3 separate regions of the Homo sapiens genome follow, and all the other regions are linked to region 1. The links come from fine-mapping of genetic effects on gene expression. A gene starts in region 1. Each other region holds a variant in brackets. All regions are shown on one strand. Distances are from middle to middle. Region 1 holds the start of RAB11FIP1 (RAB11 family interacting protein 1). Region 2 overlaps ADGRA2 (adhesion G protein-coupled receptor A2). Region 3 overlaps BAG4 (BAG cochaperone 4).

Region 1 (4,205 bases):
ATTCCTAGACTATAGGCTTTCGGTGCTAACTGACTGGCCTGTGTATTTAAGATCTAACAAAGTAACCAGCTAAGCTAATCGAGGCTAGCTTTGGCATACTAGATGAACATAATCGAACGTTCCTTTGGGTGAAGCACTGCCCTTTCCGAACACCTGTGAAACAAATAATTCGGTAATATCATGGAGTGAATGGTTTTTGCCCAGTTTTTACTGCAGAAGTGAAATAACCTGACACAATCTTTGGGAGCTACAGGCGAGCAGACATCCACCAGGATTAGGACCAGAGAGAAGAACTCTACCAACTCCAAAAGGAAACAATGCCCAGTTCTGCTCCGTCAAGGGCCCACCCGGGCTCCTTCCAACCTGGAGAAATCTTTACTAACATGGGGCCCAGGGCACACACCACACTGTTGTAACATTCTTTCTGTAGGGGCAAATTCTCTTCACCAACCCCCTAGGCAAGTATGAGGTAGGGGAAGGGGTTAGCAAGTCATGTGACAGCCGGCAAACGCCATTCCCCTCCCCCAACCTCCACCCACCCCGCATTGTAAAGGCGTTGCGCCCGGGGTTAGCCTTTAGGGTGGGGGTGTCAGCTGGTTTCATGCCTCCTGTTCCTCTGCCCTGCGCCCTGGCCCAGTCATTCTCGGCTCGAAGTGTTCTTCTATTCAGTGAAATACCCAGGAGGCCTTCCACCCAAGCGAAGGCGAGTATCAGACACGGGCTACCACCCTAGTAAGAAGAAGGCACCTGCCCACGTATAGTTGGAATTCATCTAAAATTCACTTAGTGCTTACTGTGTGCCAGACGCTGAGGGGCGTCCTGCAGATTCAAAAGCGCCCCAGGCCCGGCGCGGTGGCTCACGCCTGTAATCCCAATACTTTGGGAGGCCGAGGTGGGCGGATCACCTGAAGTCAGAAATTCGAGACCAGCCTGGCCAACACGGTGAAACCCCGTCTCTACTAAAAATACAAAAATTAGCCGGGCGGGCCGGGCGCGGTGGCTCACGCGTGTAATCCCAGCACTTTGGGAGGCCGAGGTGGGTGGATCACGAGGTCAATAGTTCAAGACCATCCTGGCCAATCTGATGAAACCCCGTCTCTACTAAAAATACAAAAATTAGCCGGGCGTGGTGGCGCACGCCTGTAGTCCCAGCTACTCGGGAGGCTCAGGCAGGAGAATCGCTTGAACCCAGGAGGCGGAGGTTGCAGTGAGCCGAGATCGTGCCACTGCACTGCAGCCTGGCGACAGAGTGAGACTCAGTCTCAAAAAAAAAAAAAAAAAAATTAGCCGGGCGTGGTGGTGCGCGCCTGTAATCCCAGCTACTCGGGAGGCTGAGGCAGGAGAATCACGTGAACCTGCGAGGCGAAGTTTGCAGTGAGCTGAGATCGTGCCATTGCCATTGCACTCCAGCCCGGGCGACAGAGACTCTGTCTAAAAAAAAAAAAAAAAAAAGCGCCCCAGATACGGCCCCTTCTTCCAAGAAGACCCAAAGCTGGCAGAGCTGGGCGGGACAGCCGCAGAAGGGGAAGCCAGGTGAGAACACCAGCACCGGCCGAGGGCTCCGTCCCGAAAGGCCTTCCCCGCTGCTGCCCGGCTTACTCTCGAAGGGTCCAGCGCCCAGACCGCCCTGCCGGAGGGGTCCGCGCCCCCAGGCCGGGCCCTCCCCTCCCCGCCCGCACTCACTGCGTCTTCCTGCGGCCCTGGTCGCGGTGCAGATCCCGCAGGTCCACCTCGGCGCGGCCCAGGAACTTGTCGAGGCCGAGCAGCGCGCGGTGCAGCACGGTGAGCTGCAGGGTGGCGGCGGCCGCGGGTCCGGAGGACAGCAGCGATGGCAGCTCGAAGGTGGCCTCCTCGCGCCACACGGGCGCGCCCAGGCTGCGCTCCGACACGGAGGTGGCGTACTTCTCCTTGCCCACCTGGATCACCGCGTACGCGTCGCTCGTGCCCCCGGGGCCCTTGGCCCGCAGGCCCCGCGCCTGCAGCACCGTCACCTGCACGTGGGTTGGGGACCACACGGCCCCCAGGCCCCGGCCAGCCGAGACCATTAGGGACATGGTGACGATAACACTCCAGAAGCGAGGAGAAGATCGCCGCGACTGGCGGCCTCCACGGCCCGCCCCGGCGACCAGGCCACTTTAAGGCTTCCGGCCACACCCCCGCCAGGCCACGCCCCTCATGGCCAAGGCCACGCCCCTGCCCGAGCCGCCTGCTCCACCTGCTGCGCCGCGCCCCGCCCCGCCCCGCCCCGCCCCGCCGGCCTCAGCAGCGCGGGCAGCTCCGGGCACCCGGGCGCCGGAGGCGGGGCTGGCGCGGCCAGGCAGGCAGGGGATCACGTGCGCAGGGGCGGGCGCATCGAGAATCTAATCTGAGAGGTGGTAGGTGACGGATGGGGTCCCCAGCTGCCAAAGGTCGCACGGCGGGAAGGAGCTGGCCGAAGCACTGACTTGGAAGTCAGACCTCATTTCCAGGGTCACATCGCCAGTCGTGGCCTTGCGCGGATTACCTAACATCAAGTCTCAATTTCTTCACCTGACAATCACCTCCTAGGATTGCTGTAAAAAATAATAATAATAATGCATTACAGTTCTTGGCCCAGTGCCTGGCTCATGGTGAGTTCTCAGTAAATAACCATGACCAGCACGTTGGGAGGCTGAGACAGGAGGATCTCCTGAGCCCAGGAGTTCGAGACCAGCCTGGGCAACATAGCCAGATCCCCGTCTCTACAAAAAAAATTAAAAATAATTAGATAGGAGTGGTGGCAAGCGCCTGTGGTCCCCGCTACTTGGGAGGCTGAGTCTGGAGGATCTCTGGAGCCCAGGAGGTCGAGGTGCAGTGAGCCGAGATCGTGCCACTGCACTCCCAGCCTGGGCAACAGAGCAAGACCCTGTCTCAAAAAAATAAAGTTGGTAACTATGAGGGTGCTAAGGAAGATGCCCACCCAATTCACTGTGCTTTCTACTTCTCCCGCTGGAAAGCCTTGCTCTGGAGGAAGGCAGCTGCAGAGGAAGGTGAGGACCTTGTGAGGGCCGGAAAAGGGGAAGGTATCCTGGGGAGCATGAGTTCAATGTGGGAGTGTCCTATTTTGCCCTCCCCCCACCAGATAAGGCGAGGCTGAGTTAGAAAAAGGGAAGAAAGGAGGAACTGAAAATGGGATTGCCAAATCAAACATCGGGACAGTGGCAGGCCCCCAGCCCGCAGTTCCCCATTTCTCCCTTGCCAGGCCCTCTTTAGTCTCTCCCTGCCTCTATCCCTGGGCTCCCAGGCAGTCCCTTTCTTGTTCCAAATGCCTAATAGATCGGCTGCTTCCCTTCATTTCACAGGTCCTAGTTCAAAGGCTCAACTGTTTAACGAGTCATCAGATTGGAAAGGTCACTTGGAAGGTTTTAAAGTTTTACAGTTAAGGAAAGACTCAGAAGAGAGGAGTGACATGTCCAAGGTCCCTCTGCAGAGCTGGGACTGGGATCCCAGTGTCCTGACTCCCAAACAGCTGTTCAGTGCATCTCTTGATTCTTCCAGATCCACAGAACCCCAATCTTGGATGGCTACTCGTGTCCCTCCAATCTCCAGGCTCTCCTCCCTCTGGTTCACACTGCACATTGCTTCACTAACCTGCTGGCTGCCTCACCAGCAACCGCGTTACCTTCGGACTGAACAGAGATTTCAAGGTACTCCATTTTGACCCCACCCTACCTCATTCTCCTCTATCTCCCGAACAAACAAACCTGTAGCCCAGACACTTTTTACTTCCAGGCCTTTACGTTGTACCCTTGACTGTCTTTGCCAACCTCCCACTGCAAGGGTTCACTCATATTTCTCCAAGGTTTGACTTCCTATGCCCTGCTGAGGGCAGGGACCAGGTAGTGACTTATTCAACTTGTCTCCTTCACAGCCTCCAGCACAAACCTGGGTGCACAGTAGGTACCCGGGAAGTGCTACTGAACTCAAGAGTTTGCAGGTTAAGTTGGCCAACCATGAGGACCAAGTGTTTCCTTTTACCACGTAGGAAATTAGAAGACAGAGGTATGCCTCAGGTTTGCAACTGAGGGCAGCTGCAGTGTGAGAAAGGCCTGTTTAGTATGTTGGAAATATTTTTTTTCTTTTTTTTTTTTCTTTTTGGAGACAGAGTCTTGCTCTGTCTCCCAGGCTGGAGTGCAATGGCGCAATCTTAGCTCACTGCAACCTCTGCCTCCCAAGTTCAAGCGATT
Region 2 (4,205 bases), 53 kb before region 1:
GGACTTCAACATGCAGGGTGGCAAGAGAAGGGCAGGACTGGCCGGCCGCTTCCCCTGGGGTAAACCTAAGGAATTATTTCCCACCTCCCCTTCTCCTTGCCCCTGTCCCCACCCCGGTGGCTCCTTCTCTCGGGTCTCCACTTCTGCTGTCCCATCCCGAAAGGCAGAGCGGACCAGTGACTGGCGGTGCTGGAGAAGGTCACCGATGTGCTTCACCACAGACCGTTTGTCAAGTCTCAGAACTCGTAACCAGGCCAGCTGCTCAGCCATCCGCAGCAGCACAGCCAGCAGCTCCTGCAGGCGGGAGGACGCCGGGTAGGGCAGGTCCACATTTGCCAATTTACAAAATCGGGCAAGGGAACATGAAAGCCGATCTGCAGGCTGCAGCGACTGCCAAGCCAGGAAAGTCGCAGCAGTGATGACGGGCAAGGGATGCCTCCCGGTCACCAGCCACGTCTCATTTGCCAGCTCCACCAACTGCATTGTTCGAGACAGCATCTTCTCTTTGTCTTCCACGTATTTGGCTGGCACAGAAGGTGAAGCTTGGAACAGTTTGAAGCTGAAATAACCAAAATGAGGGTTGGATCTTAATGATATAGGGGCTGCTCTCCCACAGTGAGGAAAGACAGCCCACTCAAGATGGGGAAGCTATTCTGCCCTCAGGAATACTCAAGCTCACTGGGCAGCAAGTTAATAAAGGTAGTGAGAGAAAACAGGGCGTCTTCCGCTTGTTAGGGGAAGGTGGAGGGATGGAGGAGAGCACGAACATTTATTGGGCGCCTCCCAATCACCATTATTCTGAGTGCTTTACAACGTTCTCATTTAATCTACGTGCACGTGCACCATCTTATGTGCATGTATAGTTAAAAAACTTTCCCATAGTCATCCAGCCAGGCAGTAACCAAGCTTCAAATACAAGGCTATTTGACACCAACAGCCTCTACTTTCAACGTTATTTATCAGAAAAAAGAAAAGAACATAGCTACTTCAAATGAGAAAAGAGCCAGGCGCAGTGCTCACGCCTGTAATACCTGCATTTTGGGAGGATCAGGTGGGCAGATCGCTTGAGCCCATGAGTTCCAGGCTGCAGTGAGCTATGATGGTGCCACTGCACTCCAGGCTGGGTGAAAGAGACCCTGTCTTTAAAAAAACTAGAAAAGACTTAGCTTCTAAGCCCAGTTATGTCATTAACTAATATACTTTCAGCTTCCTCTGCAGATGATCCTGCTGAGACAGAGCTGGGCATTCAGCCACAAAGCCCATGGCACAGCACAACTCTAGGAACTGCCATGCACAGAGCACAAAACATGAGTGGTGCAACTCAGCAGCCCTGTGCCAAGACTCAGACCTATTTTCCCCAAGTCATTAGGTTGCTGTGAAGGCAAAGGGGTTTGAAAATTATAGCATTCTTTGGCGGGGTGCAGTGGCTCACACTTGTAATCCCAGCACTTTGGGAGGCTGAGGTGGGTAGAACGCTTGAGTCCAGGAGTTCAAGACCAGCCTGGGCAACATGGCGAAACCCCATCTCTACTAAAAACAAAAAATTAGCCAGGCATGGTGGCATGCACCTGTAGTCCCAGCTACTTGGGAGGCTGAGGCACAAAAATCACTTGAACCCGGGAGGTGGAGGTTGCCGTGAGCCGAAATCATGCCACTGCTCTCCAGCCTGGGCAACACAGCAAGACTCGGTCTCAAAAAAAAGAAAATTATAGCATTCTAAAAATGTAAAACAATATTAACCTTATGAGTACAAGTTTAAACTAAAGATCTTTCTCCCACATCCTTTTACATGGGCTTTGGTAAAAAAGAGATGGCCAAGGCCGGGTGCGGTGGCTCACGCCTGTAATCCCAGAACTTTGGGAGGCCGAGGCAGGCGGATCACCTGAGGTCAGGAGTTCGAGATCAGCCTGGTCAACATGGTGAAACCCTGTCTCTACTAAAAATGCAAAGAAAAACAAAAAAATTAGCCAGGCATGGTGGCAGGCACCTGTAATCCCAGCTACTCTGGAGGCTGAGGCAGGAGAATAGCTTGAACCCCGGAGGCGGAGGTTGCAGTGAGCTGAGATCGTGCCACTGCACTCCAGCCTGGGTGATAAGAGCAAGACTCCAAGAAAAAAAAAAAGAGA[T/C]GGCCAAAGGTCAAAGGATTCAGGTCTAAGGACCCATCCCATCCCATCCTACTGTCTCCCACCAGGGACGTACCTGCTGCAATAGGTCTTCACCAGTTCTGCCAAGCACAGAGATGGCACATCCAGTCCCAGGAGCTTCACTATCTGCATGTAAGTGCTAGAAAACACATCCAAATCTGCATACAACAGCGTGCAGATGGCCCCCATTGTTAGGGGCCAGTTATGCTGTCGGCAGGTGATTAAGACGCAGCACCCAACCAACACCTCCTTCTTTTGCAGCCTGGCCGCTCGGATGCCAGAGTGCCGATATGCCTGTTGGTAGTAGGCAACCGCGGTATCCTCAAATGTTGGTGGCAACTGCAGAACTCGACAAAGGTCTCTCACTCGCCGGAGACCTAGGAAAAACCCACGGCAAGAGTTAGAGGGGTCAAAGGAGCTATCGTGCAACTCCTAGAAAATTCTGCTAGGACTTACTTAGATCTGCTAAACTTGCCTCAGATATCAGATGCACAAATTATGTACCTTTCTGCATAGACAGGAGTGACACTTGGTATAGTCATTCTAAAGACACAAAAACATTTGTGTAAAGAAGTCACATTTCAGCCCACTAGTTTTTGCAGGCTGGTTTGATTCAGGGCCAAGCCCAAGTTTTATCCAGGCTCTTAGAGGCTACCTCAAACATACGTCTGATCAAACCCAAACCTTATACTGAATTGCTGCCTCTCTCAGAACCATCCCTATTTGTTTTATTTATTTTATTATTTTCTGAGACAGAGTCTGGCTCAGTTGCCCAGGCTGAAGTGCAGTGGCGCCATCTTGGCTCACTGAAACCTCCTCCTTCCAGGTTTAAGTGATTCTCCTGCCTCAGCCTCCCGAGTAGCTGGGATTACAGGTGTGCACCACCAGGCCCAGCTAATTTTTGTATTTTTAGTAGAGACGGGGTTTCACCATGTTGGCCAGGCTGGTCTTGAACTCCTGACCTCAAGCGATCTGCCCGTCTCGGCCTCCCAAAGTCTGGGATTACAGGTGTGAGCCACCATCCCCATTTTAAATTCCTAATTACCATTCTCTTCTACTCTACCTCACACCAGCAATGCTGAAAATAGGAAAAGTGAAAAGCTGGGCTAGGCCACCAGGATAGTTTTCTTTTATTATTATTATTATTATTATTATTATTATTATTTTTTGAGACAGAGTCTCGCTCTGTCACCCAGGCCGGAGTGCTGTGGTGCGATCTCGGCTCACTGCAAGCTCCGCCTCCCGGGTTCACGCCATTCTCCTGCCTCAGCCTCCCGAGTAGCTGGGACTACAGGCACCCACCATCACGCCCGGCTAATTTTTTTGTATTTTTAGTAGAGATGGGGTTTCATCGTGTTAACCAGGATGGTCTCAATCTCCTGACCTCGTGATCCGCCCGCCTCGGCCTCCCAAAGTGCTGGGATTACAGGCATGAGCCACCGCGCCCGGCTCATTATTATTTTTTTGAGATGGAGTCTCACTCTGTCACCCAGGCTGGAGTGCAGTGGCGCGATCTCAGCTCACTGCAACCTCCACCTCCCAGGTTCAAGCGATTCTCCTGCCTCAGCCTGCCAAGTAGCTGGGACTACAGGTACATGCCACCATGCCCAGCTAATTTTTGTATTTTTAGTAGAGACGGGGTTTCGCTATGTTTGCCAGGCTGGTCTTGAACTCCTGACCTCAGGTGATCCACCTGCCTAGGCCTCCCAAAGTGCTGGGATTACAGGCGTGAGCCACAGCACCTGGCCTAGGATAGTTTTCTTTAAAGCCACTGTGTTGTAAAAGGTCAATTCTCACCTCGTTGCTGGCTGCGACTAACTTGTTCGTTTTCCCCTGTGCTTCGGGAATATGTTACCTCTGTAAGATAATAAACAACAAATAGTGTGCTTAGCCTTTATTCATCAGACCCCTGCCCTCCCACCACACAAAACCAGGACGCAAAATTCAAATCATTGAGCATCTGCTGCTGCACAGTTAAAGGCCCCATCTGGTTTTCTATGTCTACAAGAGGTTCCGAATACACAGAGACTGGGAAAGGTTAGGACTGCATTAAAGCAGCTC
Region 3 (4,205 bases), 310 kb after region 1:
AGATGCCAATTTCCATGAAGTCTTGATTTATATATATGTACACATGTTATGCACATACATGTTTGTTTTCTAACAGTTATTTTTTAAGCTTTTGAGATAATTTTAGACTTACAGAAGAGTTGTAAAAGTAGTAGAGTTCTTGTATACTCTGCACCCACCTTGCCCTTATGTTAACATCTTACGTAACAATAGAACATTTGTCAAAATTAAGAAATTAACCTTGATATAATACTAACTAAAGTAGAAAGTTTAAAAAGTAGAGATTTTAGTCTTTTCACTAATGTCCTTTTACTGTTCCAAGACCCAGCCTTGCATTTAGCTATCATGCCTACGTCCTGTCTTCCAGTCTGTGACAGTGTATCATAACAGGGGATACCTGATGTTGTAATGTATTTCTGGTGTTGTTAACCTTGATCACTATGCTAAGGTGGTGTCTGCTAGGATTCGCTACTGTAAACTTACTGTGTTTTCCTTGTAATTATTGAATATTTGCTGGAGATACCCGGAGACTATGCAAATGTCCCGTTTCTGCTTAAACTTTTGCTCATTTTACTATCCATTGGCAGATCTTGCTTGTGGCAGTTACTACTGTGGTGTTCTAATGGTGATTTTCTATTTCTCTCAATCCTTCTACATTTATTATTGGAATTCTTCTGTAAGGAAGAGTTGTCAGTTCTGGATTTATATTTTTAACTATAATAAGATATTCAGGATAAGTATAGATTTAGAACTTAAAGATGTTAAATCATGTTAAAATTATTCCAAATACCAATATCAAAGAAAACTAAGTTGGTAATCTATCTCAGAAAATATATGAACTTAAGAAGGAAAATAGTATTTATGATTTGTAGAATTGGTTCAACTTTTGACTTAATACTGACTTTGGACTGAATTCAAAGTTTTCTTGAAATTTCACATCTGGACTTTTTAAAGTGTCTACATTTATATTACTTTGGGGATCATTTTGTCAAAGTCTTGAATAAAGTTACCCAGTCCTGGCATGATAAACACAACTATGTTTTTTTTTTTTTATAATAACCCTCTGTTGTTCCAAGTATGAATGCCAATGAAACTGTTTAAACAAATAAGCCCTAATGAAGTATACAGGGGTTGGATTATATGTGTCTCCACATGTTGGTGCAGAATTCTTTTAAATGCTTTTAAAAATGGGGTTCTGAAAACAGTTTTTCAGTTGGTTAATGTAAATAATACCATTAAAGCTAGGCAGGTTAAAAAAATTTTGAAGAATGTAGATTAAATAGGCATAAAAAAGTTTTTGGGGGATGGATAGTTGATGGAGCTTTTCTTTTACAACTTTACTTTTTTTTACTTATTTTTTTAAAAAAGTAAGGAGTTTACCTCAATTCGTAGAAGTTACGAGTTTAAAAAGTCAGTTCTATGAAAGGCAGCATTCTCCTGATCCCACCCCCATTTCTCCTTCTCTAAAGGCAACCACTTTCAACTGAGTTTTTCTTTTGTTAATCAAAAAATTTTGTTTTTAGAGACAAGAGTCTTGCTATGCTGGTCTTAAATTCCTGGGCTCAAGTGATCCTTCTGCCTCAGCCTCCTGGGTAGCTGCGACTACAGGCATGGACCACCTCAACCAGCTTCAACTGAGTTTTTATGTTTTTTTTGAGACGGAGTCTTGCTCTGTCGCCCAGGTGGGAGTGCAATGGCGCGATCTCGGCTCACTGCAACCTCCACTTCCCAGGTTCAAGCCATTCTCCTGCCTCAGCCTCCTGAGTAGCTGGGATTGCAGACATGTACCACCACGTCCAGCTAATTTTTGTATTTTTAGTAGAGGCGGGGTTTCACCATGTTGGCCAGGCTGGTCTCGAACTCCTGACCTCAGGTGATCTGCCCACCTTGGCCTCCCAAAGTGCTGGAATTACAGGTGTGAGCCACTGTGCCTGGCCAGGTTTCCAGGTTTCTCTCTCTCTCTCTTTCTCTCTCTCTCTCTCTCTCTCTCTCTCTCTCTCTCTCTATATATATATATATATGTTTTCTTTACTTTTTTTTTTTTTGAGACAGAGTCTTGCTCTGTCACCCAGGATGGAGTGCAGTGGCATGATCTC[G/A]GCTCACTACTGCCTGAAATTCCTGGGCCCAAGGGATCCTCCCGCCTCAGCCTCCCCAGTAGCTGGGAGGCATGCATTATGGCACCTGGCTAATTTTGTAATTTTTTGTAGAGATGGAGTCTTGCCATGTTACCCAAGCTAGTCTCAAATGCCTGGCTGGGCTCAAGTGATCCTCCCTCCTTGGCTTCCCAAGTGCTGGGATTACAGATGTGAGCTACCACACCTGTCCTCAATATACTTATTTGGTAGTTTCATTGTACGTTATCCTGACTATGTAAATGCTAAGGAGAGTTTAGCTATATAGTAACCTGATTACTTTTCCTTTCCTAACAACTTGTTTTCCCTGGAATTAATCATCTGTCATATTTGTTTTGTTTGCTTATCTACCTAAGACTGATTTGACCTTCTCTCAGTCGTCTAAGTCTCTCAAGATGCTCAGACAAGGCCCGGCATGGTGGCTAATGCCTGTATGCCCAGCACTTTGGAAGGCCAAGGCGGGAGGATTGCTTGAGCCCAGGAGTTCAAGACCAGCCTGGGCAACATAGTGAGACCTCGTCTCTATTTAAAAAAAAAATTAAAAAATTAAGATAAATACAAAATGATTAAAAATTATTAATATTGGCTGGGCGCGGTGGCTCACACCTGTCATCCTACTGCTTTGAGAGGCTGAGGTGGGTAGACAACTTGAGGTCAGGAGATCCTCCTGGCCAATATGGCAAAACCCCATCTCTACTAAAAATACAAAAATTAGCTGGGTGTGGTGGCGCATGCCTGTAATTCCAGCCACTTGGGAGACTGAGGCAGGAGAATCACTTGAACTCAGGAGGTGGAGGTTGCAGTGAGCTGAGATCGTGCCACTGCACTCCAGCCTGGGCAACAGTGAGATTCCGTCTCAAAAAAAAAAAAATAAATAAATATATATATATAAAACATATAAATATATATTAGAAATATATATTTAAAATATTAAATATACATTAAATATGTAATATATATTTAATATATAATATATATTTAAAATATATATAATATAAATATATATAATATATATATATAAATATTTTATCAATTTCAAACTTCTGAAGAGTCTATCCTGAACCCTTCTGACTGGAAAACTAGTATGTTCCTGGCATAGTACATAGGGTCATGCTGTGGATTCTTTTTGTCTCTTCTTTTGGTTTTCTGTTTTTTGTATCCTATGTCTTTCTCTTTTTGTTTATTCCGTCATTTGGTGGAGCATATTCTCCAGGTGCTTCCTGGAAAAGGGTGCATGGGAAATAATTTATTTTGATCTTGCATATTTGAAAATGTCTGTTCCACCTAGCCAATGGATTGATAGTTTGGCTGGGTATAGAATTCTAGGAAATGATTATCTTAAGGATTTTGAAGGCATTGTTATATTGTCTTGTAGATTCCAGAATTGCTGTTGAGAAGCATATGCCATTCTGATTCAAGATCCTTTGTATAAAACCTGATATTTTTCTCTAGAAGCTTATAGAATTTTTGGGGGGGCCCCATTTGTTCTGAAATTTCCTAAGAATAGCTTTGGTTTAGGTCCATTTTTATCCGTTTTGCTGGGGCCATTTCATTCTGGCAACTCATACCATTAAGTCCTGTGAAATTTTTTGATTTTTTGTTTGTTTGTTAATTTCCCTCTTTCCTCCATCCCAGTCTTCTCTGTTAATACTTTCTAGAATTACTACTGTTTTGACTGTAGGCCTCATAGACTGGTTCTTTAATTTTCTTATGTTTTCTGTTTGTTTGTTTTTTTTTTAATGTTTTGCCTTTTTGTGGTACTTTGTAGGAGATTTATACAACTTTATCACTTTTTATTTTTATTTTCTGTGTGACAGGGTCTCATTCTGTCATCCAGGCTGGAGTTCAGGGGCACAATCTCTGCTCACTGCAACCTCTGCCTTCCTGGTTCAGTTGATCATCCTGCCTCAGCCTCCTGAGTAGCTGGGTTACAGGTGCACACCGTCACAACTGGCTAATTTTTTTTGTATTTTTTTGTAGAGACAGGGTTTTGCTAAGTTGCCCAGGCTGGTTTTGAAATCCTGAGCTCAAGCGATACACCCACTTTGCCTTCCCAAAGTGCTAAGATTACAGGCATGAGCTACCATGCCTGGC

The links. PIP is the estimated chance that this variant, and not a neighbour inherited with it, causes the effect.
Region 2: its variant is fine-mapped to the expression of RAB11FIP1 in whole blood (GTEx, PIP above 0.99).
Region 3: its variant is fine-mapped to the expression of RAB11FIP1 in whole blood (TOPMed, PIP 0.93).

Annotation. Positions count from the first base shown.
Region 1 is chr8:37,897,388-37,901,592 of GRCh38, forward strand. It overlaps RAB11FIP1 (RAB11 family interacting protein 1), which reads right to left and starts at 2,110. Exons shown (of 6, transcript NM_001002814.3): 1 at 1,684-2,110. The coding sequence starts at 2,054. RefSeq lists an enhancer at 1-365 and silencers at 1,495-1,924, 2,145-2,374.
Region 2 is chr8:37,844,655-37,848,859 of GRCh38, forward strand. It overlaps ADGRA2 (adhesion G protein-coupled receptor A2), which reads left to right. Exons shown (of 19, transcript NM_032777.10): 19 at 1-242. It overlaps BRF2 (BRF2 general transcription factor IIIB subunit), which reads right to left. Exons shown (of 4, transcript NM_018310.4): 2 at 3,942-4,001; 3 at 2,200-2,521; 4 at 1-559. Among named protein-coding and RNA genes, the nearest start is that of BRF2, 3.1 kb to the right of the region's middle. The variant T/C (reference allele first, on the strand shown) is at 2,127.
Region 3 is chr8:38,212,289-38,216,493 of GRCh38, forward strand. It overlaps BAG4 (BAG cochaperone 4), which reads left to right. Exons shown (of 5, transcript NM_004874.4): 5 at 1-1,013. Among named protein-coding and RNA genes, the nearest start is that of DDHD2, 17 kb to the right of the region's middle. The variant G/A (reference allele first, on the strand shown) is at 2,076.